Linked DNA regions of Homo sapiens. The protein of the gene in region 2 interacts with the protein of the main gene of each other region in a biochemical or structural test. Each region holds a gene or a part of one and is shown on either strand. Other genes may lie near its edges.

Evidence for each region.
Region 1: the proteins of MAP3K10 (region 2) and MAPK8IP2 form a complex in vitro, tested with the Homo sapiens proteins (one study listed by BioGRID).
Region 3: of the proteins of MAP3K10 (region 2) and MAPK9, one has a biochemical effect on the other in vitro, tested with the Homo sapiens proteins (one study listed by BioGRID).
Region 4: the proteins of MAP3K10 (region 2) and MAPK8IP1 form a complex in vitro, tested with the Homo sapiens proteins (one study listed by BioGRID).

Annotation. Positions count from the first base shown.
Region 1 is NC_000022.11:50,610,784-50,614,504, reverse strand, and holds the end of MAPK8IP2 (C-Jun-amino-terminal kinase-interacting protein 2), read right to left. Parts: 3' UTR 527-3,721; downstream 1-526. UniProt on the Homo sapiens protein: The JNK-interacting protein (JIP) group of scaffold proteins selectively mediates JNK signaling by aggregating specific components of the MAPK cascade to form a functional JNK signaling module.
Region 2 is NC_000019.10:40,208,420-40,215,454, reverse strand, and holds part of MAP3K10 (mitogen-activated protein kinase kinase kinase 10), read right to left. Parts: intron 6,353-7,035; coding exon 6,236-6,352; intron 2,651-6,235; coding exon 2,479-2,650; intron 2,380-2,478; coding exon 2,267-2,379; intron 2,067-2,266; coding exon of another isoform or gene 1,939-2,066; coding exon 1,234-1,938; intron 806-1,233; coding exon of another isoform or gene 789-805; exon of another isoform or gene 554-788; intron 486-553; coding exon 163-485; 3' UTR 1-162. UniProt on the Homo sapiens protein: Activates the JUN N-terminal pathway.
Region 3 is NC_000005.10:180,233,050-180,240,084, reverse strand, and holds the end of MAPK9 (mitogen-activated protein kinase 9), read left to right. Parts: intron 1-97; coding exon 98-161; intron 162-1,681; coding exon 1,682-1,753; intron 1,754-3,553; coding exon of another isoform or gene 3,554-3,558; coding exon 3,559-3,701; 3' UTR 3,702-6,942; downstream 6,943-7,035. UniProt on the Homo sapiens protein: Serine/threonine-protein kinase involved in various processes such as cell proliferation, differentiation, migration, transformation and programmed cell death.
Region 4 is NC_000011.10:45,888,640-45,895,674, reverse strand, and holds part of MAPK8IP1 (C-Jun-amino-terminal kinase-interacting protein 1), read right to left. Parts: intron 1-7,035. UniProt on the Homo sapiens protein: The JNK-interacting protein (JIP) group of scaffold proteins selectively mediates JNK signaling by aggregating specific components of the MAPK cascade to form a functional JNK signaling module. Required for JNK activation in response to excitotoxic stress.

The DNA.
Region 1 (3,721 bases), on a different chromosome or scaffold from region 2:
CTCTCTCTCTCTCTTTCTCTCTCTCTCTCTCTCTTCTTTTCTTTCATTGTGGTTACAGGGTCTTGCTCTTTCCAGCCAGAGTGTGGTGGCATGATCATGGCTCACTGCAGCCTCAACCTCCTAGGCTCAAGCTATCCTCCTCCCTTACCCACCCAAGTAACTGGGACTACAGGTGTGTGCCACCACACCTAGATAATTTTTGTATTTTTTTTTTTTTTTTTTTGTAGAGATAGAGGTTTCGCTTTGTTGCTCAGGCTGGTCTCGAACTCCCAGACTCAAGGGATCTGCCCACCTTGGCCTCCCAAATTGCTAAGATTACACAGTAGCATGAGCTGCTGTGCCCAGAAATTTATTTCCACTTAATAGCATAACAGAAATTTTCTGTGTAATTACAAACATTGGAACTTTTTTTCACATCTACCCAATATTTCAATTAGGTAAATATACCTTAATCAATTAACCCTATTGGTCAATATTCAGATTACTTTTATGCTTACATTATTTCAAAGAAGAATGCAATAAACACTTTTCTGTAGAACGCGTTTTATTTAGAACGCCATCCTTGGGCTAGATTGGCGGAAGTTGGAGGCGTCATGCAGCGCCTCCTGCCTGGGAGCCAGGCGATCCGCCAGGTTCTGGGAGGACCTAAGGTCAACAGCCACGCCTGCTCTCTGGGCTCACAGTCAGCAGCCGCTACCAGGAGAGCAAGTCCTCAGAAGGCCCGAGACCAGGGCCCGGGAGCGCCCACAAGGACGGGAGGTCACCCAGTGACAAACAGGGAAGGGCAGCAGGTGCGCCCAGGAACCCAGAGGCTCCCAGAGCAGAAGTGGGATGCAGGGGTGGGGGCGGGTCATGCTGAGGTTCAACAGGGACCTGCTTCCTGGTTCAACAGGGAGCTGGCCAGAGAGAGGGATCTGCTGAGGCTTCTGTTTAAAAACCCTGGCCTGGGTGTGGGTGCAAGTGGATTTGCAGGTGCAGTGAGGCAGCGGCCGGAGCAGGCTGTTGCACGAAGACCCAGGAAAGTCAGGGTGGTTTGATCCAGGCAGAAGAGGGGGAAATGGAGCCTGGGGCAGACGTAAAGGTGCTGGGGTGAGGATAAGGGTGACAGGAGGGAGGAGTCTGGGGTGACCAAGGCCTGCAGCTCAGGTGACTGGGAAAAAACATAAAACAGAACACAGATGAATGCAGGGGTCGGGACGAAGGCTCCTGTGAGTCTGAAGTGACTGTGAGTGGCACCCTCTGGCCAGCCACAGTGGCTCTCACAGCTCATTCTGCAGAGCACCGGCCCAGTGATGAGCCGAGGAAGTGCCCCTGGAGGTCAGCTGGATCTGCCCAGTGGTCTGCACAGGGGGCGGCTGCCAGGGGCCTGAGCACAGGGAAACCCTCGAAACTGTGGGAGGGATGAAGCCAGAGAGGTAGACCCCAGAACCGACCAAGCCCAGCATGGGGCGTGGAGGGCGGCCAAGCTCAAGAAGACCATGAGATTGGAGAAGGAGCTGCAGAGAGGTGGAAGGCAGACAGGCGAAGGACTCACGAGCACGTCCAACAGCCGTCCTAAGGGCCGGCTGGAGGGAAAGAGACCTGAAGACACGTTGGGGGGCGGGGCCGGGCAGGGGCGGGGCCAGGCCGGGCAGGGGCGGGACGGGGGCGCCGGAGGGCAGGGCTTGGAGAATTCTCACCTGAGTGGAAGAGCAGAGGGAGGAGGTGGGTGGGTGGCAGCGGTTTCCAGGCAGCAGCTACAGGGGACTGAGGGCCACACCCCGAATGCCCTAGCCCAGGGGGCACAAGTTTCAAACGTACACACCCAGTGGGGCTATCTGCCTCTTTACAGCTTTATCTCAATTAGTAGGAAAGTTTTCTCATAAACGTTCTGCGTTTCCGTCGTGCCACTGGTCTGCGTCCTCGGTCTCTCTGGGGCCTCAGGTCTGTGCGCTGCACACGGGCTGAACCTCTGGATCATGATGCACTTCCTAACACTGGGCAGCTATTTCTCTGCTTGTTGGCTCTGTGAAGACGTGTTTTTTACGGACAGCACTTTCTAATGTTTATGTAGTAAGTTTGTGTATACTTCCCTTAGCTCACTAAGGAACCTTCAACTGTTGTCTTCCTGGTGTTGCACGAATCCTGGGCTCAGACAGAGGGACCCCGGCCATGCTGACCCCTGCCTGGGAGGCGGGCTCACCCAGGAGGGCCTGGGAGGGAACATTGCCGGGCATCTGCAGTCACCTAAGCACATAGTGAAAAAGTCACCTATTTTCTTCTGGCTTTCTCTGGAGAATTTTTTAAATATCCATTTTAAGATCTAAGTAGATTGTTTTTCTTTTCCTTTTTCTGAGACGGAGTCTCCCTCTGTCGCCCAGGCTGGAGTGCAGTGGTGCAATCTTGGCTCACTGCAACCTCCGCCTCCCAGGTTCAAGCGATTCTCATGCCTTAGCCTCCTGAGTAGCTGGGATTACAGGTGTGCGCCAGGACACCTAGCTAATTTTTGTATTTTTTGTGGAGATGGGGTTTCACCATGTTGGCCAAGCTGGTCTCAAACTCCTGACCTCAGGTGATACGCCCCGGCTCGGCCTCCCAAAGTGTTGGGATTACAAGCGTGAGCCACCGTGCCCGGCCAGATTGTTCTTCAAGGAGTTCATGCCCCCACTACACACTGACCTGAGCCGTGCTGGCCCCCAGTCCGTGCACGTGGAAAGGACACCCCATTGCACAGCCTCGGATTCCTCTGTGGCCAATCGAGTGTATCTAGGGAGAATTCCCAAGGGTGCTTCTAGATACGGCACCTCAGATAAGGCCCCAGAGCAGCACCGCAGGGACCCCCGGCACAATTTCGGAAAGAGCTAAAAGGGTGAGATTGCCACAACACTCCCGCCACTGGGGACTCTGTCCCTACCACAATGGGCAGCCCCTGGGCACCTGGCCCCATGTCTTAGCACCCTCTAGAAACAGCCAATGTCACACCAAGCAGAGAGTTTATTGAGGCCATGGGCAGGGCCCAGGAACACAGCACGGGGCGTGCGTGGGGTGGATGCACGCTGGACTGCAGGGGTGCGCTAGCAGCGGCAAGCGGAGGGGTATTGGGGGCCCAGGAGGGCCCCCCCTCCTAGCAGCGTCTAGGGGCTTCAGGTGAGCATCAAGAACCACTCCTAGCCTCCGCAGGGCTCTTTTGGGAACCCCTCCCTGCTTCCCCCTGAGCTCCATGTGGGGTGGGGCTGGGGCGAGGGGGCCCCTCTTGTCCCTGTGGTCAAGGATGGGATGATCCCTTGAGATTCACTATAAAAATTAAAATTCCCTTATAAATCGCAGGGGAGTGGCAGGAGGGCATCACTTGGAAGCCGACATTACCTGTCCCTAGAGCCGCACCTCCTCCACACCCCCGAAGTTCTGACCCCAAAGTGAAGAATAGAGGATAAGGTTTGCAGGCACAGAGAGGGGCAGAGACACCAGGAGAGAGAAAAGGGAGACTGGGAAGGGAAGGAGGAGGACAACACAGAGAAAGAACGGATCTGAGGAAAAGCAGGGGCACGGGGGCTCCACTCCCCCGCAGCCCCAACAGCTGCGCCCTGGGGACCGAGGACGAGAGTTCCCAGCCCGCAGACCCCCACAAGCGTAAGGTCCCATGTCCCCCCAATCCAGTCCTTGCCAAAGCCATGGTGGCCTCTTGAGACATCCTCAGCCCCAGCTGCGCCTGGAGCAGACGGCCAGGAGACAGAGCGGTGGG
Region 2 (7,035 bases):
GGGTACAAAGGAATAAGTTAAGTGTCCCCCCCCTCCCTCCTTCCCCAATAAATAGAGTGAACATCCTGCCCAGGGCCTCCCCCACCTTGTGGCATGGCGGGCTGGGGCAGGGCCTGGGGCGCTACATTCATGGCTGCCCAGGCGGGCGGTGGTGGGCAGGCCTTAGTGGGAGCCGTGGGCCCCGCACAGGGGCACTGTGCTGTCTTGGTTCTGCCCCTCCATGTCCATGTCCAGCAGTGTGGGCTGCACGCTGGGGGGCCCAGGGCTCTCCGGAGTGTCTGGCCTGCTGGGAGGCGAGATGGTGAGTGTCCGGCCGAAGGAGACCAGTTTCCAGGGGTCCAAGCGGGGGCGACTGGCAGCCGGCCGAGGTCTCGGGGCAAAGGTCAGGGTGGTGGGGCGGCCTGGGAACTCAGGGGGCCGGCGGCGGGCTGGGAACAGGGCCTGGGGGTCGGGCAGGCGGGGGAAGTCCAGAAGGTCACGAGGGCCTGGTAAGAGAGGTTCAGAGGAGGTGAGTGGGGTGGGGCAGAGGGTGGCATTAAAAAGCCCAGAGCTGTTACATGAAAAGCACAAGTTCTGGTTTCTCTCGAGAAATCCGTGGATCTTGCTGCATCCAGTTTCCATCTGTAGTGTGGCAGTGCTGGGACCTTGACCTAGACTGGGACCACTCCCAGCTGCTTGCTCCTCTGGGTGGACCCTGGCATGTTCCTCAACCTTCTGGAACTGCTGCTTAGCGGCAGCCTCGGGGGCCAAAGCCCTGGTCTTCCCGACTCTCCTGCACTGGGCTAAGCTCAGGCATGGCTTAGCTCTGAAGGGGGATAAAAATGGTGCCTCACCACGCAGGTGAGGAGCAAATAGAATAACCATAACTTAAAACAAGCAGCACAGTGCCTGACGTGGGTACTTAATAACACTGCTATGGCCGCATCTCCCACCCAGTTAACAGATGGAGGAGAACAGTGTCTAGGCTGTGTAAGAATTGGCGATGGTCATGCTGGTCACAACCGCTATAGGCACCTGCCTGGCCTTATAGGCATCAGTTTGCCGCCTGTGTCTCAGTCCCCTGGAGACCCCCGATGCCTCCAGGAGTGAGCGGTAAAGGGACACAGACCCTCCCTCCTCCACAAGAAGCAGGAGGTGGCTGCCTGAGGGGTCGTGGCTGGGCTGGACTTGCGACCCTGGCAGAGGAGGAAAGAAGGGGTTTTCTGTGACCTGGGTGCAGGGCGCCTCACTCACCAGGGCCATGGCCCGCGGGCTCGGGCGGCCCCCGCTGCCCCAGCGCCCCGTCCGATGGCGTCCGCCGGTGCCCGCGGCTCACAGCGCATGCAGCCGTGACGTGGGTGGGCGTGAGCGACTGGCGGGGGTCCTTCTTGAAGCTCTCCAGCTCCAGGTCCACCAGGGGGTTGGTGCTGGGCGAGGGCGTGGGTGTGGGCGCGGGCGGGGAGGGTGGTGGGGAGGGCGCGGCCGGTGCGGCCTCGTCACTGTCAGAGCGCAGCAGTGAACGCGTGGAGTTGCAGTCGGACACGGACGACAGCGACACGAGGGTGGCCGAGGGCGCCAGGCCCAGGCCGGGGCCCACGTCTTCGCGGCGGCCGTGGGGACGCGCGGGTGGGCTGAGGCCCCGCGGGAAGCGGCCGGCGCGGGGAAAGAAGAGGCCGTCGAGCCAGCGCCGCTGCTCCTCACCGTCGGCCGCGCGCGCCTCGGCCACGTCGGCGCCCAGGCCCACAGCCCCCAGCAGCGTGGCGCAGCCTAGCAGCGCCAGGTCGCAGCGCCGCCGGGCGCCGTGTCCCCACCGAGCGGGGGGCGCGGACGGCGTCGGCTCCCACGGCGCCCGCGCCCCCGGGGAGGGCTCGGCAGGCAGTGGCACTGAGAGGTAGGACGGGGTCGAGTAGGGGGAAGGGGGCACGCTGCTGCCTCCATCCTCTGCCTCCGCGAACTCCTCTGCAACCGGAGAGGGCCATCACTCCGCTGCAGGGCTGGCCAGGGCCCCACGGGGACTTGTGCCAAGGGACAGCCCCCGATGACCCCTCCAACAGCAAGACCAAGACCCACGAGCATCGTTCTTGAATCTGTCTCCAGGAGAAGCCTCAGAGAAGGGTGGTCCCTGCCCCTGGAAATGACCCCCCACGCCCCAGGGGCCACCATCTCCCTTCCCAGGAAGGCCTTCCACTCACTGGCCCAGTGAAACCTGGTCTCTTCGCTCAGCCCCAGGAGGCTCACCCCTTTGGCCAGGGAACCCCCACCCCCTTACAAGAACCCAGGCTCTTACCCATCTCATTGAGGCTGGCAAAGCCAGGGGCGATGGGTGTGTGTTTGGGGGACTTGCCCAGGTTGGGGGCACTTGATGACCACTGTTTGCTTCCTTCCCCCAGCCCCTTCAGCCTGCGGGGTCCAGGGAGAGATGGAGACCTCAGTCCTGTGGCCTGGAGCCTGGGAGCTGGGGCTTGGGCACAGGGTGGGCATGACCACACCACACCTCACCTCTCCTCTCCTCCCACCCGCTCCTTCTGCAGGGTGGAGCTGGGCCCCCACGTTCGTCCCTTCTTCTTGCCCCCGACCAGTTCTTCCTTCTTTGGGGGCCCACCGCGGCTCCATGTCCCACTTCCTCCACTGCTGCTGCCACTGCTGCTGCCACCACAGTCCACGGGAGTCACTGGGTCCAGAGAAGCCACTTGGTTACTGGGTGGAGGATCTGTCCCCACTGGGCTCCCAGCCTCCAGTGCCCCCAGCTCAGGCCCACCCTCCGCCTGGGAGTCCAAGGGCTCTTTTGAACTCCAGTCATGACCCTCCCTGCTATATATCTCCCCATAGCCCCCTACTGCTGTCAGGACAAGGTTCCAGCTCCTCCGCCTGGCACTGAAGGCCATGAGCGGTTCCCTGCCAACTCCTCCAGCCTCCCCTCCTCTTCACAGCCTAACCCTTCACCATTCATTCTGGCGGGCTGCCTGCGCTTCTGGTCTCCAGCTCTGGGTAGTTAGTTCCCTGGGGGTCAGCTGCCTTCATCTCTGTACCTGCAATGCTCTGGACCTATCTGGTGCCAGTGTTTGCTGCCATGGTATGGGTATTTGTCTCTGTGTCCCCTGCAGGACTGACCTCCTGGGCCTGGTACAAAGCAGGTGCCCAGACAGAGGGCAGGGGGGCTGTGGGTGGGGACAGTGCTGGGGTGAATGAGGTGTTGGAACTTGGGAGCTAGCCTTTCACCCTTCAACCCACCAGGAAACTCCGATGACCGTGTCTCTGCCATATAGCCCCGACTGTGGACATCTGTCCCTTCCAAGTCCCCCACCCTGGCCTGGCCTCCATCATCTCACTGCTTTCTCCACCTTTATTTCTTACAGCAGCCAGAGGGAAAAAGGTCAATTTGATTCCCTCAGTGCCTTGCTCGCATGGCTCTGGGGGCTGCCCCAGGGCAGTTAAAAGAAAATCCATACCAGGCCAGGTGCGGTGGCTCTTGCCTGGAATCCCAGCACTTTGGGAGGCCCAGGCAGAAGAATCACTTGAGGTCAGGAGTTGGAGACCAGCCTGGCCAACATGGTGAAAACCCCATCTCTACTAAAAATACAAAAATTAGCCAGGCATGGTGGTGCAGGCCTGTAGTCCCAGCTACTTGGGAGGCTGAGGCAGGAGAATCGCTTGAACCTGGGAGGCAGAGGTTGCAGTGAGTTGAGATCGCACCATTGCACTCCAGCCTGGGAGACAGAGCGAGCGTCTGTCTCACCATGGAATACTATGCAGCCATAAAAAGGAACGAGATCATGTCCTTTGCAGGGACATGGATGGAGCTGGAAGCCATTATCCTCAGCAAAATAATGCAGGAACAGAAAGCCAAACACTGCATGTTCTCACTTATAAGTGAGAGCTGAGCAAATAGATCACATGGACACAGGGAGGGGAACAACGGACACTGGGGCCTGTTGGGGGGTAGGGTGGGGGAGGGAGAATATTAGGAAAAATAGCTAATGCATGGGCTTACTACCTAGGTGATGGGTTGACAGGTGCAGCAAATCACCATGGCACACGTTTACCTATGTAACAAACCTGCACATCCTGCACACGTACCCCAGAACTAAAAACAAAAATTAAAAACAAAAAAATCCATACCAAAGGTGTCAAATGAAAATTAAAAAAAAAAAAAAAAAAGAAAGGAAAATCCAGACTCTTATCCTGCTCTCAGGGCCCTGCCTGATCTGACCCCTGAGAACTCCCTGATCACAAAACCTATGTCCTCCTCCCATTCACTCTGCTCCAGCCAAACAGGTTAACAAGCAGCCCATGCTGTTCTCACCTCCAGCTTTTGCCTTTGCTGCTCCCTCCGCCAGGGGCATGCTTCCCTGAGGTCTCAGCCTGTCTCACTCAGCAGGAAGGTCCCTGCTCAAACCTCACCTCCTCCCATAGGGCTTCCAGATGGAAAATCGCAACCCTTCTGTGATGGGTAATTTTATGCGTCAACTTGACTGGGCCAAAGGACGCCTAGGTAGCTGGTTAAACATGATTTCTGTGAGGGTGTTGCTGGATGATTAGCATTTCAATCAGTGGACTGAGTAAAGAGAGATCATCCTCGCCAATGTGGGTGGGCACCATCCAATCCACTGAGGGCCCAGACAGAACAAAAAGAGAGTTAGCTCTTTTTGTCTAGGAAGGCAGAGGAAGGGTGAGTTTGCTCTCTGCATGAGCGTGGATATCCATCTTCTCCTGCCCTGAGACACTGGACATTGGTGTTCAGGTTCTCAGGTCTTTGGACAATTTTTTTTTTTTTTGAGACTGAGTCTCACTCTGTCGCCCAGGCTGGAGTGCAGTGGCACGATCTCGGCTCACTGCAACCTCCGCCTCTCAGGTTCAAGTGATTCTCCTGCCTCAGTCTCCCGAGTAGCTGGGATTACAGGCATGCGCCACCACGCCTAGCTAATTTTTGCATTTTTAGTAGAGACTGGGTTTCACCATGTTGGCCAGGCTGGTCTTGAACTCTTGACCTCAGGTGATCCACCTGCCTCGGTCTCCCAAAGTGTTGGGATTACAGGCGTGAGCCGCCGTGCTGGGCCAGGTCTTTGGACTTGATTTGGAACTACATCACCGGCTTTCCCGCACCTCTGGCTTGCAGAAGGCAGATTGCAGGACTTCCCAGCCTCCATAATCGTATGTGCCAATCCCTCATAATACATCTATTTCTTTTGTTTTTGTTTTTGTTTTTTTTGAGACGGAGTCTCGCTCTTTCGCCCAGGCCGGAGTGCAGTGACGCTATCTCGGCTCACTGCATGCTCCGCCTCCCGGGCTCATGCCATTTTCCTGCCTCAGCCTCCCGAGTAGCTGGGACTACAGGTGCCTGTCACAGCACCTGGCTGACTTTTTGTATTTTTAGTAGAGACGGGGTTTCACCGTATTAGCCAGGATGGTCTCGATCTCCTGACCTCGTGATCCGCCTGCCTCGGCCTCCCAAAGTGCTGGAATTACAGGCGTGAGCCACCGCGCCTGGCCTTTGTTTTTGTTTTTAAGTAGAGATGGGGTCTCGCTTTGTTGCCCAGGCTGGTGTCGAACTCCTAGGCTCAAGCAATCCTCCCACTTCATCCTCCCAAAGTGCTGGGATTACAGGTATGAGTCATCGTGCCCAGCCAATACATCTCTTTCTATATATCTAAACATATGCTGTTGATTCTGTTTCTCTGAAGAACTCCGATTAATACATCTCCTCTTTTATTCCCTTCCCTGAGCTCCTTTAAAGAACTTATCACTACTAGAAATTATCCTGCGCCCGGGCGCGGTGGCTCATGCTGTAATCCCAGCACTTTGTGAGGCTGAGGTGGGTGGATCACTTGAGGTCAGGAGTTCGATACCAGCCTGGCCAACATGGTGAAACCCCCATCTCTATTAAAAATACAAAAAATTAGGCAGGCGTGGTCATGTGTGACTGTAACCACAGCTACTCGGGAGGCTGAGGCAGGAGAATCGCTGGAACCCAGGAGGCGGAGGTTGCAGTGAGCTAAGATTGCACCACTGCACTCCAGCCTGGGAGATAGAGCGAGACTCTGTCTGTCTCCAAAAAAAAAGAAAAAAAAAAAAAAGAAATTATCCTGCTTACTGACTTATTTGTTTACTATCTGTTTCCTGTGATAAGAATGAGGAAAAGGGCCTTGTCTGTCTTCTTTCTTGCTGTTACTCTGGCTTGGTGCCAGGTATAAACATCGTGCTAAAAAATGTTTGTTCACTGACTGACTGACTGGTCAGGGCCTTGGGAGATACTCACGGCGAATGGCCCTCAGCCGGGGGATGATGCTGGGGCTTGCAGGGGGGCTGGCCCCATCGGATCCTTTCCGCTTATCCAGAGTTGGAGAGGCCTGGACTGTGATCTTATGCTCAAAGCCTGCAGAAAGAAAGAGAAGCTTTCCTAAGCAAATGGTTCCAGGGATTACCAAAGGGAATTTTCTTCTGTAGAAGTAGAGAAGGAATTCTAGAATGGGAACACCGCCATTTTTCATTCCTTAATGCAGTGGTTCTCAGAGTGTGGGCCCCAGAACAGCAGCATCACCATCAGCTGAAAATTTCTTGGCAATGCAAATTCTTGGGCCCTCCCTGAATCAGCAAGTTGGGGTGAGGCTCAGCAATGGACTGTGGTTTAATAAGTACAAGCACAAGAGCTCTTGTGGATCAAGGACCTAGGCCTCAGTGTCCAATATGGCCGCCAGTAGCTACGTGTAGCAGCTGAGCACCTTGAAATGTGGCTTGTGCAATGGGGGAATTGGAGTTTAACCTTTATTTATCTAATTTTTAAACTGTATATATATATATATATAAAGGATGAGTTCTCACTGTGGTGACCAGGCTGGTCTTGAACTCTTGGCCTCGAGCAATCCTCCAGCATCCGCCTCCCAAAGTGCTGGGATTACAGGTGTGAGCCACCATGCCCAGCCAACTCTTTATTTTATTGTAATTACCGCAATTTGAGTTTAAATTTTAAAAACAGGTATGGGGGCTGGGCGCGGTGGCTCATGTCTGTAATCCCAGCACTTTGGGAGGCCGAGGCAGGCGGATCACGAGGTCAGGAGA
Region 3 (7,035 bases), on a different chromosome or scaffold from region 2:
AAATAGACTAGAAGTCTTCCAAGCAATTTTACCTTTTTTAGTGCCTCATTTTTTTTTGAGGCATTACTGTTGACTTTACATATGATTTAATTTTTAGCCACCACCTCAAATTTATGATGCCCAGTTGGAAGAAAGAGAACATGCAATTGAAGAATGGAAAGGTAAAGATGGAGCTTATTTTGATCCTTCCTTTTGACATTTCTTCCAATCCTGTAGAGCAGAGGCTTTTCATTTTGTGACATTTCCCTTCAGGAAGGGGCAAGAAACCCTGCGACCCACTTAGCCTCTTTCTCCCCAGTTTCCAGTAGAAAATGAACTTGAAGAGAACAGAGTTAGAGAGGAACATTTATGAATTTCTTATCATTTGCTTCAAGAGGGAAAAATAATATTTTTTTCATGGCTTTTCACATATTGATTTATAAACTGAGCTTAGTAATTGTATCATACTTATATTGATTGATATGTTTTTAAGCCATGTAGTTGTACATATGTTTTAAAATCTAGTTTGGGGGAAATTGCAGATTGAAAATATGCAAATAGGTATTATTACCACTATAAGATTAACCAAACAACCCACAACAAACTATACCTGTAATGAAGAGGTTGAACTAACAATTTTTCATTAAGAAGCAGGATCAGTAGTAACTGAGAACCACAGTCAGAGTCAGTCAACACTGATGAGGGTCATGCCCCAGGGCCATCCTGGGGTGTGGGAGTGCCGGTTACCTGTGTGTGCCCGTGCTCAGCAGTGCATGCACACAGCGTGCTCACTGGCCTCAGTCAATGCTCACTGGCCTCAGCGAATGCTTGCAACGTGCTAATGTTGGTTTATGAATACTGACATTTTAGGAATCCCTCATCACTTACTTCGTAGGTAATTAGTTTTTCTTACAGATGAAAGTTGAGGAAAACCGAAGTTGAAATTAAGAAAAGACTTAGGCCTGTGGATTCATTTCTGGCCAGTGTGGGGGGCTCCTAGCCCACATGTGGGTGCTGGTTACCTTTGGAGAACCCCAAGTAACCACATAGAGAAACATATTCAAATGGGTGTGAGAATATCCAATCCCCTACAGTGTTCTGTGGGAGCCACTCCACTTCATAAAGCCCCCTTATGGATCCAGAACCACCCTACATGTTTTGCTGCCTTACTAGTTGCATTGAAAAAGATGTAATGTAGTCCAGGCGCAGTGGCTCACACCTGTAATCCCAGGACTTTGGGAGGCCAAGTGGGGCAGATGGCTTGAGGCCAGGAATTCAAGACAAGCCTAGCCAACATAGCGAAACCCTGTCTCTACAAAAACTACAAAAGTTAGCCAGGCATGGTGGTGAACACCTGTAATCCCAGCAATTTGGATGGCTGAGGCATGAGAATCACTTGAATCCAGGAGGTGGAGGTTTCAGTGAGTCAAGACCATGCCACTGTACTCCAGCCTGGATGACAGCATGAGACTGTCTCAAAAAAAAAAAAAAAAAAAAGAAGAAGAAGAAAAGAAAAGATATAATGTATCAAAATATGAATATTTTGGTCCAGGTAGACTATATTACTGAATTGACTCTGTCTTACAATTAAAAATAACAAATCGCAATGCCTTTGTTCCAGTTGATTTGGAAGCAGAGTTTAGAGATACAGTGAAACTGTTTAGAAACTGATTAAGCATTTTAACTTGTATTTTTATTAAAGAGCTAATTTACAAAGAAGTCATGGATTGGGAAGAAAGAAGCAAGAATGGTGTTGTAAAAGATCAGCCTTCAGGTTAGTGATTGCTTTAATTGATTGTATGATATTTTTCTTTCCCTATTCAACTTTTTTTTTTTGAGACAGAGTTTCGTTCTGTCGCCCAGGCTGGAGAGCAGCGGCGCGATCTCTGCTCACTGCAACCTCCGCCTCCTGGGTTCAAGCAATTCTCCTGCCTCAGCCTCCCGAGTAGCTGGGACTACAGGCACGCGCCACCATGCCCTGCTAATTTTTGTATTTTTAGTAGAGACGGGGTTTCACCATATTGGCCAAGCTGGTCTCGATCTCCTGACCTTGTGATCTGCCCGCCTCAGCCTCCCAAAGTGGTGGGATTACAGGCACGCACCACCATGCCTGGCTAATTTTTGTATTTTTAGTAGAGACGGGGTTTCAGCATATTGGCCAAGCTGGTCTCGATCTCCTGACCTCGTGATCCACCCGCCTCAGCCTCCCAAAGTGGTGGGGTTACAGGCGTGAGCCACCGCACCTGGCGTCTTTCCCGATTCAACTTTTATAAATGGCAGCAACATGTGAAATGCCAGCCTGGCTAGCATCAGATTTAAAAACCGCTGTATGAATAGCCAGCCTTTTTGGCTTGTCATAGTGGTGGTGGTGGTGGATGACATTTTACTGATGTGCCAGGCACTGAACTTTGTTATAAGCATTTCTCTTTCATCTTTGCAATAACTGCTGTCACCTCCATTTACAGATGAAGAAATTGAATTTAAAGCCTTTTCAATGTTGATAACCCTTTGTACTGGTCCCACCCAAAATGCCAATCTAAGTAAAATGGAGTATGGTATTCTTTTTGAGAAAATTGTTGATATCATTTTCCCATTTTTCTGCTTGATCTACTGATCTTCATAGTGGTGGAAGCCTCTAATGACCAGGTAGTTGTATGATCATGAGACTCTGATATGAGTCGTGTTCACTTACGTCTGAAGGATTCTTCCTGTTTACTAAATGAAACGCTCACGTTATATCATTGTCTCTCTCCCACTCCCACTGGGAAGCATGCACACACATGTGTGCGGATGTGCAGAGAGCACAGCTTACTTTTTATTCTTGAATTTTATGTTCAACATGACGTATGTGTCAAGCATCTAGAGATTATATAACTTCAGCAAGAACTTAGGTGCTTGTTAACTGAGCACACACGTATGACTGCAGACGTCGATCTCAGAGAGTGCATGTTGTGTTTTTATTCAAACCAGACTAAAATATGGATAGTAGGAAGTAGGATAGTTTCATTTGCTTTAAAAGATTAAAATGTCAGTTTTCTGGAGTTATAAAACCATAAAATATACAAGGCCACTAATTTTTTTCCTTTTTCTGGTATATAGTCTTTATTTATTGCAAAAGATTTCTTTGAAAGTTGATGCTTTTTTTCCTGTAGATTTAGTGTTTATGTTATAAATTGTTACAATTCAAGTGTCTGGTGACACTGGAATCCTAGTCAGGCTTAAGCTTTTGTGATACTGCATTTTCAGATAAATATAGCTGTGTCCTTTTGATGTCTGCTTGAAAGCAGCAGGTATTTTTTAAGTAGCTAACATGATTATACATGGCCACATATATGTTTAGCTACTGAGAAAAAAAGAAGAATCTTGCAAGGAAAGACATAGGAATATGGGACTCTTGGCCCAAAGAAAGACTCAAGGAAAAGTTCAGAAAGTCCAGCTGACTGACTTCTTGTCTATACTCATAGTTAGGATTGGGAAACTGCAAAAGGACAGAGCCGAGAAATGGCCTGCAGTCTCGCTGCCTGGATTTGCAGCAATGTCGTGCCTCAGATTTTATTATATTTGGTTTTCTTAGCACAGATGCAGCAGTAAGTAGCAACGCCACTCCTTCTCAGTCTTCATCGATCAATGACATTTCATCCATGTCCACTGAGCAGACGCTGGCCTCAGACACAGACAGCAGTCTTGATGCCTCGACGGGACCCCTTGAAGGCTGTCGATGATAGGTTAGAAATAGCAAACCTGTCAGCATTGAAGGAACTCTCACCTCCGTGGGCCTGAAATGCTTGGGAGTTGATGGAACCAAATAGAAAAACTCCATGTTCTGCATGTAAGAAACACAATGCCTTGCCCTACTCAGACCTGATAGGATTGCCTGCTTAGATGATAAAATGAGGCAGAATATGTCTGAAGAAAAAAATTGCAAGCCACACTTCTAGAGATTTTGTTCAAGATCATTTCAGGTGAGCAGTTAGAGTAGGTGAATTTGTTTCAAATTGTACTAGTGACAGTTTCTCATCATCTGTAACTGTTGAGATGTATGTGCATGTGACCACAAATGCTTGCTTGGACTTGCCCATCTAGCACTTTGGAAATCAGTATTTAAATGCCAAATAATCTTCCAGGTAGTGCTGCTTCTGAAGTTATCTCTTAATCCTCTTAAGTAATTTGGTGTCTGTCCAGAAAAAGTCGATTTATGTGTATTAATTGGCCATCATGATGTTATCATATCTTATTCCCTTTTATGCTATGATTTATTCTATCTTTTGTATTTCAGAAGACATATAATTAAATCTATTTAATAAATAAAAATATATAGCTTTTCTTAGATTTGTGATGTTTGGGGCTGAGAATTATCACGGCTAAAACCAAGACACTTATGTGGACATCTTGTTTTCTTTAAACTGTCTTGTCTGGGATGATTGTACATTCAGCTTTACTGCACGATACAATTTTAAGTTTTGCTTAGTGCTGCTTGAAATCCTAGCTACCTTATCTCTTTTCTTCTTGGTCTTCTAGACTTCTTATGAATTTAAAATGCTACCTAGAACTTCACCTTCTTTATTAGGTGCGTAACACTCCATCTTAATTAAATATGATGGCAGATAGGTTCCTGCATCCATGGCCTAACGTTGGAGTGGAATTTTACAAAATGCTCACTAGAGATCACTGCAGTCATTTCCTAAGTGCTTCCTTTGCCACAGACTGGCCTGGGTCCTTTATTTACCTTCCCTCATTCACTTTCCCTCGGCCAATACCACGTTCTTGATTTTCTTTCTTCACTGGAAGAAAGCAGATAAACTCCTCTTTGGTCTGTTTTCAGAGGCCAGGCTGATTCAGATGCCTGTTGCTATTGTTGCTCTCCATTGTTGGGAGGCATTCCTTTTCACAAGAATGTTCTGGGAAACTCTTCAGAGGACGTGAAGGAAATACCCTGAAGAGTCATGATTAACTATTGACTATTTTCTGATTTAAAACTGCTCACCTGAAATTGATACTTTTAGACTTTACGATCAGTAAATTATTCAGAATTCATGAAGATGCTGAGTATGTTAAGTGTCACTGCAGGAACGGAGCTGTGGTGATCACGTTTTGCCTGCCTGTGCCCATGTCTCTTCCCTTGAGCTTATTCTGTTGCTGATTCATATCTTGTGTTCAATTATTTTGGAAGCTTTTCAGTCGACATTCTGTAGAGTGTGTTCTGAGGAGGAACTGTGATAAGAAAGTTTATTATAAATATTATGTAAAATATATGGCTCTCTCTGCACCAGTTATATCTTATTGGTTGGTCATATCACTGGAAACTGGAACCTTTGATTAGCAAAATTAATATTGAAATAAGAAATAGTTCTTTTATATTGTGTCATTTGGACACTTTCAAGTACAAAATGGTAATAATAACTTGGATTGAGGCGGAAACACCTATTTTATGGCTATCTATCTAAACATCTTAAAATGGCCTTCTCTGTAATACACTTTCTTTTAAAAGACTTCACTAAATCTATCTTTAAAAGGAAAAACAAAAGGGAGAGGTTGAAAATGCGCGAGCTGCCCTGCACTGTGTGATGCTCCCTCCCCGGGAGACGTGGACGGGGGACGAGGCACCCGCAGACGCCCTTCTGCTCACTCGCTCCTCTGTGCATTCAGCGAGCCACTTGCCACAGATGGAGCCCGTGACGGTGTGGAGGGTTTCCTGGAAAGGCCATCTTCCACCAGGTAGAGGCGAGCGTGCCTAGGACAGGCCACAGGGCTCCACAGAAATACCTCACCCCAGCTTCAGGGTTCTCTCTCCTGAGCCTAGATTTGCCAGGGTCTTGGTGCCACGCAAATGGTTTCAAACTGATCTCTATGGATAAATGCTGATGTTGGTTAAAGAACTGAAAAATGTGCTCAACTGTTTCATCTTTTCTATTTTATTTTTGTAATTTATATTGTACACAACCCAGGAAGTAACTATTTTGGACATGTATTTTTATAAACCAGGTAATTTACTATTATCCTGGAATTTAGACTAGGTTTGTTTCATTTGTTGACTTAGTTTCCAGCCAAGAAGGAAACGACTGTCTCCCCCATGTCCAGGTCTCAGTTTCAAGGGCAGAGTCCAGAGAGCAGACAGAGTTCTGTGAGAGCAGGAGAGCAGTCTGGAAACCCTGGCTGTGCATACCGTGTCAGCCGTGGGCCTGGAGATGGGAGCAGGTGAGACGCAGAGCCCCAGTACTGAGAGGAGGAAGCCCTCTTACAGGGCCCCTTGCCCACCCCAAGTCCGTGTCTGAAACACGGAGCGGGTGCTGCTTCAACCCGCATTTAATGCTGTGTAAGTAGCGATAACCACGTACGAGTCTGTCTGGTTGATTTCTAATGTGACTCCTCTGGTATTTCCTCCTGGTAATAAATACAAGTGTGACCTTTCAGATTGCATATCTCAAAAGTAACATTGCTAATGTTTTATAATAAAATATATTATGTGTGTTTTGGTTGGTGAAAATAATACAGACTACATTTTAAAAGATAAATGTATAGCATGTCCAATTTTTGTGTGTTTTTACATGGCAATTAGATATTTCTCCATCACCATCTCTGATGACAGATTTAACATGAACACAGATAGATGATAAAGTGTCATGCTTTTGATCAATATTAGCAAGAGGTTTCACACTGAGAGGCAGAAACATTGCTGTTTGTTCTCTTATTGAAAATATTCTGCAAATTCCTAAATCTGTGTTTTCAAAACTAATGGCAGTAAGTTTTGACTTCACCAATATGCAGGTCCAATTCAGAGTATTGGTGTAATTGTTTTCTCATGAGGCGTGGCCAGGAGAATTCACCAGTCAGCCTTAGTCATGTTACTTAACGTCATTCATGGTGCTTGTGGCTTTGTGCCTGGGATGAGCCAAGTTCATCTGACGTCTGTGTTTGAAGCACTTCAGGCTGTTTAGTACTTAATACCACAGGAGTGGAAGGACACTCAGTGGCTCACTTTCTTTTCTCTGCTTAAAAGGACTAGAAGCATTCCAGAGAGATGAGTACCAGCTGTGTGTGTGTGTGTGTGTGTGTGTG
Region 4 (7,035 bases), on a different chromosome or scaffold from region 2:
GTGACCTCTGCACATATATATATATATATATATATATATATTTTTTTTTTTTTTTGAGACGGCCTTTCGCTCTGTCACCCAGGCTGGAGAGCAATGACATGATCTTGGCTCACCGCAGCCTCTGCCACCTGGGTTCAAGTGATTCTCCTGCCTCAGCCTCTTGAGTAGCTGGGATTGCAGGTGTGCATCACCATACCTGGTTAATTTTTGTATTTTTAGTAGAGACAGGGTTTCACCATGTTGGCCAGGCTAGTCTTGAACTCCTGACCTCAGGTGATCTGCTCGCCTCGGCTTCTCAAAGTGCTGGGATTGCAGGCGTGAGCCATGGTGCCCAGCCCCCCTGCACACATCTGTGTCTCCTCACACATGGCTCCGCTTCCTCACTGCCAAGCCCTAGTCCAGCTCCTGCCTCTGCCCTCCCAGATGTCCCCACTGGCCTGTCTGTCTCAGTCTCCCTATGCCTGCACCATCCCACTCCACCTGCCACTATCAGGCAAAACTGCCAGAAATGCCATCATCCCTCCCGCCCCACTTGGAACCCTCAAGGCTCTCCACTAGCAGCAGGTTCCTGTGCCTGCAGGCAAGGCCTCCAGCTCCATGCGTAGTCTGCGTGGGCACTGTGTCTCCCCAGTGCCAAACCCAGTGCTCAGAGGGAGCACGTGGCAGACTCTCAAACCATGCTTGCTGGAAGAGTGCTCAGTTAAGCTCATTCTTCCAGGAAGCCCTCCCAGCCCTTGCATGTGGCTGATGTCACCATCTGCCTGGATGTACAGTAGTGTGTGCAGCAGACAGGGCCAGCCCTCCCTCAGAAACACCCACTTCCCACCCCCTGGCTGCTCCAAAGGTGGATGGGGCCTGTATCCAGCACCCTGATTGATGACCCTATACTGTACCCAGCAGGTGATCAAGACCCCTTCCTCCCCTTGCTCCTGGAGGGCAGAGCTGGCGAGTTCATCCTGCATACACTGAGTCCTCAGCATGAGCCTGCTAGATGTCTGTCACAGGACAGCCTCTGCCTCCACCTGCTCCTCTCGAACTGCAGGCTGGAGCAGGGCCTGCAGGGTCTGGCTTAGACCTGGGTTAGAGGCTTCTCAGTTCACTTCTACACCCTCAACATCACCTGATATTCCCACTTCCTTGGACAATAGGTCTGGGTGGGGCAAGGACAGCAGCATTCTTCCTGTACAGCTGAGGGCACTGGGCTTTAATTGGGCAATGCTAGAAAGAATACTGGGCTGGGGGTCAGAGAGCCTATGCCTGATCCCTGGCTCTACTGGGGTGGGTTAAGGGGGATGCTTTGTCTGACTTTTTAGGTGCCTCTCATAAGTAAGGCAGGATGGAAGAATGATCACCATATCAGGCTTGGAAGCAGGAGGCCTGAAATAAATCCTGACTCTTTCACGTTGAAGCTGCCCCATCTTGGCCCCAACATTTATGCCATGCATCTCTCTTAATCCTCATTGCAACAACCTTGGGAGAGGGTTTGTTCCATTTTTCCCATTTTACAGATGAGGAACACTAAGGCTTAGACATAAAGGTGCCTTATGCTTCAGCTTCCCAGATACAGGATGAAGCCACCAATCCCTGCCCACCCACCTCAGAGGGCTGGTGAGGGTTAGCAGAATGGAATTTGTGTGAGTAGGAGGTCACTACCAAGGATCAAGGGGGACTGATTGGTCAAAGAGTACCCTGTGCAAGTCACCCCCCATCCAAGACTCTGCCCTTTCCTCTTTTCCAGGCACCAGATGTTCTGGCCTCCCAGCTAAAACCCTGGGGGGTCCCTTTATGGAGAGAAGGCTAAACAGACACTTGGTCCCTGAAGGCTCATGGAAGGTCAATGTGGGGAAGGGAGGGAAAGGAGGAGGGAGGAAAAGATGGAGGGGAGAAGGGAGGGGAAGAAGGGGAAAAGAGGGCGGTTCCCTCCTGTCCCGCCTGATCCACCCTGCTCATGGCAGCCTTAGCACCAGGAGGCCTCCAAACTGAATCCTACGGCCCTCCGCAGGCCGGCCTCCCTCACCTCTGGGTCTGGAAGTTTCAGCAGTCTCCTGTAGAAGCAGCCCCTGCCCACCCATCAGACCTGCTTGTCTATCCTGGATGCTGTGATCCTTGAGACGTCATCCATATTAACGTTTGGTGGCTCTGAGCTGTGAGTTTGGTCTCTGGAGACCGCCCTGACCTTTCTACCTGAGGCCCTGTTCCTGCATTCACCTGATCCCTCCTACTCTGCTGCCCCAGTCCTTGCTTTTGCCCTGCCAGCTCCTCACTGTTCTCGCCATACCAGCTCCTGCTCCCACCCCACCCTGAGCTGCACTTTTCTAAATGGCCCTGAACAAACATGCCTTTTGTGTTCTGATGTTGATTTCAGGCCCTTTTCCCCTGCCTTGCTGGGTCACATTTCCACCAACCACAGTCCTGCCCTTTCTAACGGACTATTTCAGCTCCGTAGTAGGCTGAGTTAGAAGTGTATGTAAAGCAAAGGTTAAGTGGTAAAGTGCTGAGGCTTTAGCTGAGCAAGGCCAAATCTGAGCCAGGCATTGGCTGTTCAGATGTCATTCTTGGGCCTTTGTGTTCCTGGCTGTGCTGTGGTGAGGAGGTAAGGATGCCAGCTGATTGACCTTGGGTCCTGGCCACAATGCCCCACAAGCCTCTCTTGTGACAGAGGGCACGTGTGGTCCAGGGATCCAGCCTGCCTCTTTGCAGCCCTCTAAGTGCTGAGAACGAAGCTGGCTCCCAGTGAGTTCTCAGGACACCTGTTGACTGGCCGCTCAACCCTAAGTGGGTTCCCCATTTCCCTCTGGTTCCTCTACCAGCCACTCTCCACCAGGTAATGACAGCAAAGCTGACCTCTGAATTACAAATCTGGTCTGGTCACTCTTCCCAGCTCAAAGCCCTTTAATAGCTTCCCCTGGTCCTTAGGAGAAGGGGCCCAAATTCTCATCTGTGGCCTGAAGGCTCTGTAAAGCCTCCTTTCCCTCCAACCAGTATCATTTCCCTTCATTCCCCCCACCTCCCACCTTTATCTCCTCCTTCAATAGCGCAGCTCCCAAAGCAGTAGCATGGTCTCCTCTGCAAGCCTTCTCTGACCTCTGGGACCAAGCCAAACCGCCCTGCTATGGGCTCTCGGAGTCCCTCCTGGCTGTGGTTCCGTATCACTGTAATTTTACCTTTGGGTTATGCGGCCCGCGGTGGCCTCCCCTTGGAGTCAGTTAATCCATATGGGTGGGATCATATCTGTTTTGATCAACATGTGTGGTGCCTAATAGGTACTTGACAAATGCTGAATGAATTAACCACAGGTGTCCCAGGGCTCTCTGGATTTTTGCCTTGGAAATCTCTAAGTTAGTCCACTTTTCCAATCAACTTCCTGTGTCCCCACCTACACCAGAGTCTGGGCTAGGATGTCAGGTCCTCTGGGAAGACGGTGCTGGCTGAAACGGTGGGGTGGGGATGAGCCAGACCCAGCATCCCTCTCAGGCCCTCGCTCTACCCCCACCACCTGGCTCTGGGTGAACATGGGGTTGGGCTGGGTTTGTTCTTTGGGTCAGAATTCCCTTCCTGACCACCTCCATACGGAGGTCATCTCCAACGAAAACTGAATCCAACCAAAGAAATGAGCCCCGAGGGACAACCCCACTTGCGGTTATAACATGTTTGATCTGTTTAAACATCTTCATGCTGATACATTGCAAGAACTCTGGGATCCAGTTGTTCGACTTTTGGGAAACTGCTTCGAGGAAACAATCCCACATTGTTTGGAGAAGAACTGTTACACACAGGATGTTCATTCCTCATCACAGCAAACAACTGAAAACACCTGCGTCACCCAGCACCAGGGGGCTGGTTCCATCGTGGCCATCAGCAGATGAAATGTGATGCAGTCTTTTGGAATCAACATTATAAAGTCTGTGTATTAAGGTGACAACTAATAAAATGAGCAAAAAGACAGCATATATGATCCAGTGGTCTCCCCAGGATGATATTGCACACAGGAAGAAACACTCACATGGACACAGAGTTGTGAGATGGGGTAGAATCTGGGGCGCTCTTTTCTCCTTTGCTGTCCTTCACAGACTTTCATCTTGGGTCATGCCAGCCTAGCATGGGCTCCCCGTCTGCTGCTGGGCTGCCTGCCCTCCCCAGAGCTGCAAGTTTCCTGAGGGCAGGGTCATCATACTCACCTGGGCACTGACTCCCCACCTTTGCTCCAATCTATGCACAAAGCCCAAAACCCTGCACACCATAGGTGCTAAATCAGTGCCTATTAAAGAGGCACTGCAAGCAACATGACAGCAGGAGCCATGAGCTCTCCACTGGCATCTCCAGTGGCGGAACAAGGCAAAGCACCCAGAGACGCTCCTGCTATTTTGGAATGAATACAAGAGTGGGGCCAGGGAACAAAGATGGCATCATAGAATGATTAAGAACTACGTGTGGATGGTGGCTGTGACCCAATTTGTGGGAACCATGGGGGCCCCAAGCTAGAAGTGTGTTGTGGCCCATTTCCAGCAATCCAGAGACGAACTTTAAAGCTCTGCCATCAGCGAGCTGGGGTTGAAATTCTGCCCTGGCCACTGCCGGACTGTGTGAGGCAAGTCAACACTCTCTGCCTCCACATCCAAGGTCCATCAGGAGCCAGGCCAAGGCGGTCCTGGGCATGAGGCAGCTCCAGCAGCACCTCCCCACCTCCACCGAAACATGGTTGGCTGAACAGGCCACCGGCCAGCCATCTTCCTGCCCTCTGCTCAGTCTCCCTGGACAGTGATGTCCTCTCTGAGGCTTCAGTGGCCATCCCTCCAAACTCAGACTCCCAGGGTCTTTGGCCCCAGCCCTATCCTCTCCTCTGAGCTCCAGACCCAAAACCGACTGACTGTATGATTCCTCCAATTGGGTCCTCCAATGATCCCCAGTCTCAAATTCAGCAGGTTCCCACATGATTTTCACACCCTGCCCACCGCCCTCTGGTCTCCCACTGGACACCCCACCCACCAAGGAGCCCCAGCATCATCCTAGACTCCTGCCTCCCCACTCCCTATTCTGTATCCCTCACCAAGCAGGCTAATCTGCCCCCTAACTCTTCCTCACACCCTGAACCTGTCCCTCCTTCTTACCAGCAGGATGGCTAGTCCCCTGGCCGCTCTCTACCCAGCAGCCAGGTGATCCTCCTAGAACAAGCTTGTCTAACCCATGGCCCATGGGTGCGTGAGCCCCAGGATGGCTCTGAATGTGGCCCAACACAAATTCATAAACTTTTTTGAAACATTATGAGATGTTTTTGTGTTTTAGCTCATCAGCTATCGTTAGTGTTAGTGTATTTTACGTGTGGCCCAAGATAATTTTTCTTCCATGTGGCCCAGGGAAGCCAAAAGATTGGACACCCCTGTCCTAGAGGATCTGTCTGACCCTGTCATTCCTTTCCTAACCCCCTGCCAGCTCCTCTGGCTGTTGGTGAAGAGGTCGGCATCGTCACATGGCCTACAAGTTCCTGCACATCCTGCTCTCCACCCTCCTGCCAGACTGGGCACCAGACACCCTGCCCACCCGCTCTGGTCTCCGCCCTTCACTCCAGTGACACCCTTGGGTGATATTTTTATGCGTCCACCAGGCCTAAGCTGAAATGTCCCTGCCTCTGGGGGGCCTGTCTAGACCCGCTGAGCCTGGGTCCCTTGACCTGAGCCATCATCACACCGACCAGCCCATCTGTAAAGCCGTCTGTCTGTCTGTCTCCCCTCTACAACACCAATAGCATGATGGCCAGGCCCACGTCTGGGCCTTTGCAGTGTTTCCCTGGTGACCTAGGCAAAGTGCAAACGTTTGTTGAGTGAATGAAGGAAGAAGCCTCTCGGTGGCCCCATCTCTCATCCCTGAGGCAGGGTGCTGGGGCAGATGGCAACCATCCAGGCAGCCATGGCCTGGCTCTATCCCAGCTTTGCCACTAATTTGCTGTGTGCTCTTGGGGGAGCCACTCGCCCTCTCTTGTTTCCTCATAAGGGGAGGGAGCTGGTTGGACGAGCTGGTCTCTAAGGTCTCTCAGATCCACGATTCCCCTTCTACACACCCCAGACAGGCCGCTCGCTCCCTTCTTGTCCATGAAACCCCCTTTGTCTCTGCTGTTCCTCCCACGTGAACTGTCCTTCTGCCCCTCCTCTTTGTCCCACCTACCCAGTGCCAATGTCTCCACTGTGTAAATTTCTAAATTCTCTTTTCTAGAGTTTTCTTTATAATGAACATGTATCACTTTAATTTTGAATTTTCTTTTATTATTTTGTAAGACACAGAAGTAACCTATACTCATTATAAAATAAGAAGTCAAATACAGGTGAGCAGCCCTAATCCAAAAACCTGAAATCTGAAATGCTCCAAAATCCTAAATGTTTGAGCACCAACATAACAGCACAGGCTGTAAATTCCACACCTGACTCCACATGACAGGTTGTAATCAAAACTTTGTTTCATGCACACAATTATTTAAATTATTGTATAAAATTACCTTGAGGCTATATGTATAAGATATATAAGAAAAAATCAATTTCATTTTTAGACTTGGGTTCCCATCCCCAAGCTATTTCGTTATGCATATGCAAATATTCCAAAATCCAAAAAAATTAGAAATCTGAAACACTTCTGGTCCAAAGCATGTCAGATCAGGCATACTCAACCTGTAATATAAAAGTATGACACTGGGCGTGGTGGCTCGAGCCTGTAATTCCAGCACTTTGGGAGGCTGAGATGGGTGGATCACCTGAGGTCAGGAGTTCAAGACCAGCCTGGCCAACATGTTGAAACCCCGTCTCTACTAAAAATACAAAAATTAGCCGGGCGTGGTGGTGGGCACCTGTAATCCCAGCTACTTGGGAAGCTGAGGCAGGAGAACCGCTTGAACCCAGAATACAGAGGTTGCAGTGAGCTTAGATCATGCCACTGCACTCCAACCTCCAGCCTGGGCGACAGAGTGAGACTCTGTCTCAAAAAAAAAAAGTATGTAAAATAAGAAGTAAAAATCCCTCACCCCATACCATACCCAAAGGTAACCAACCA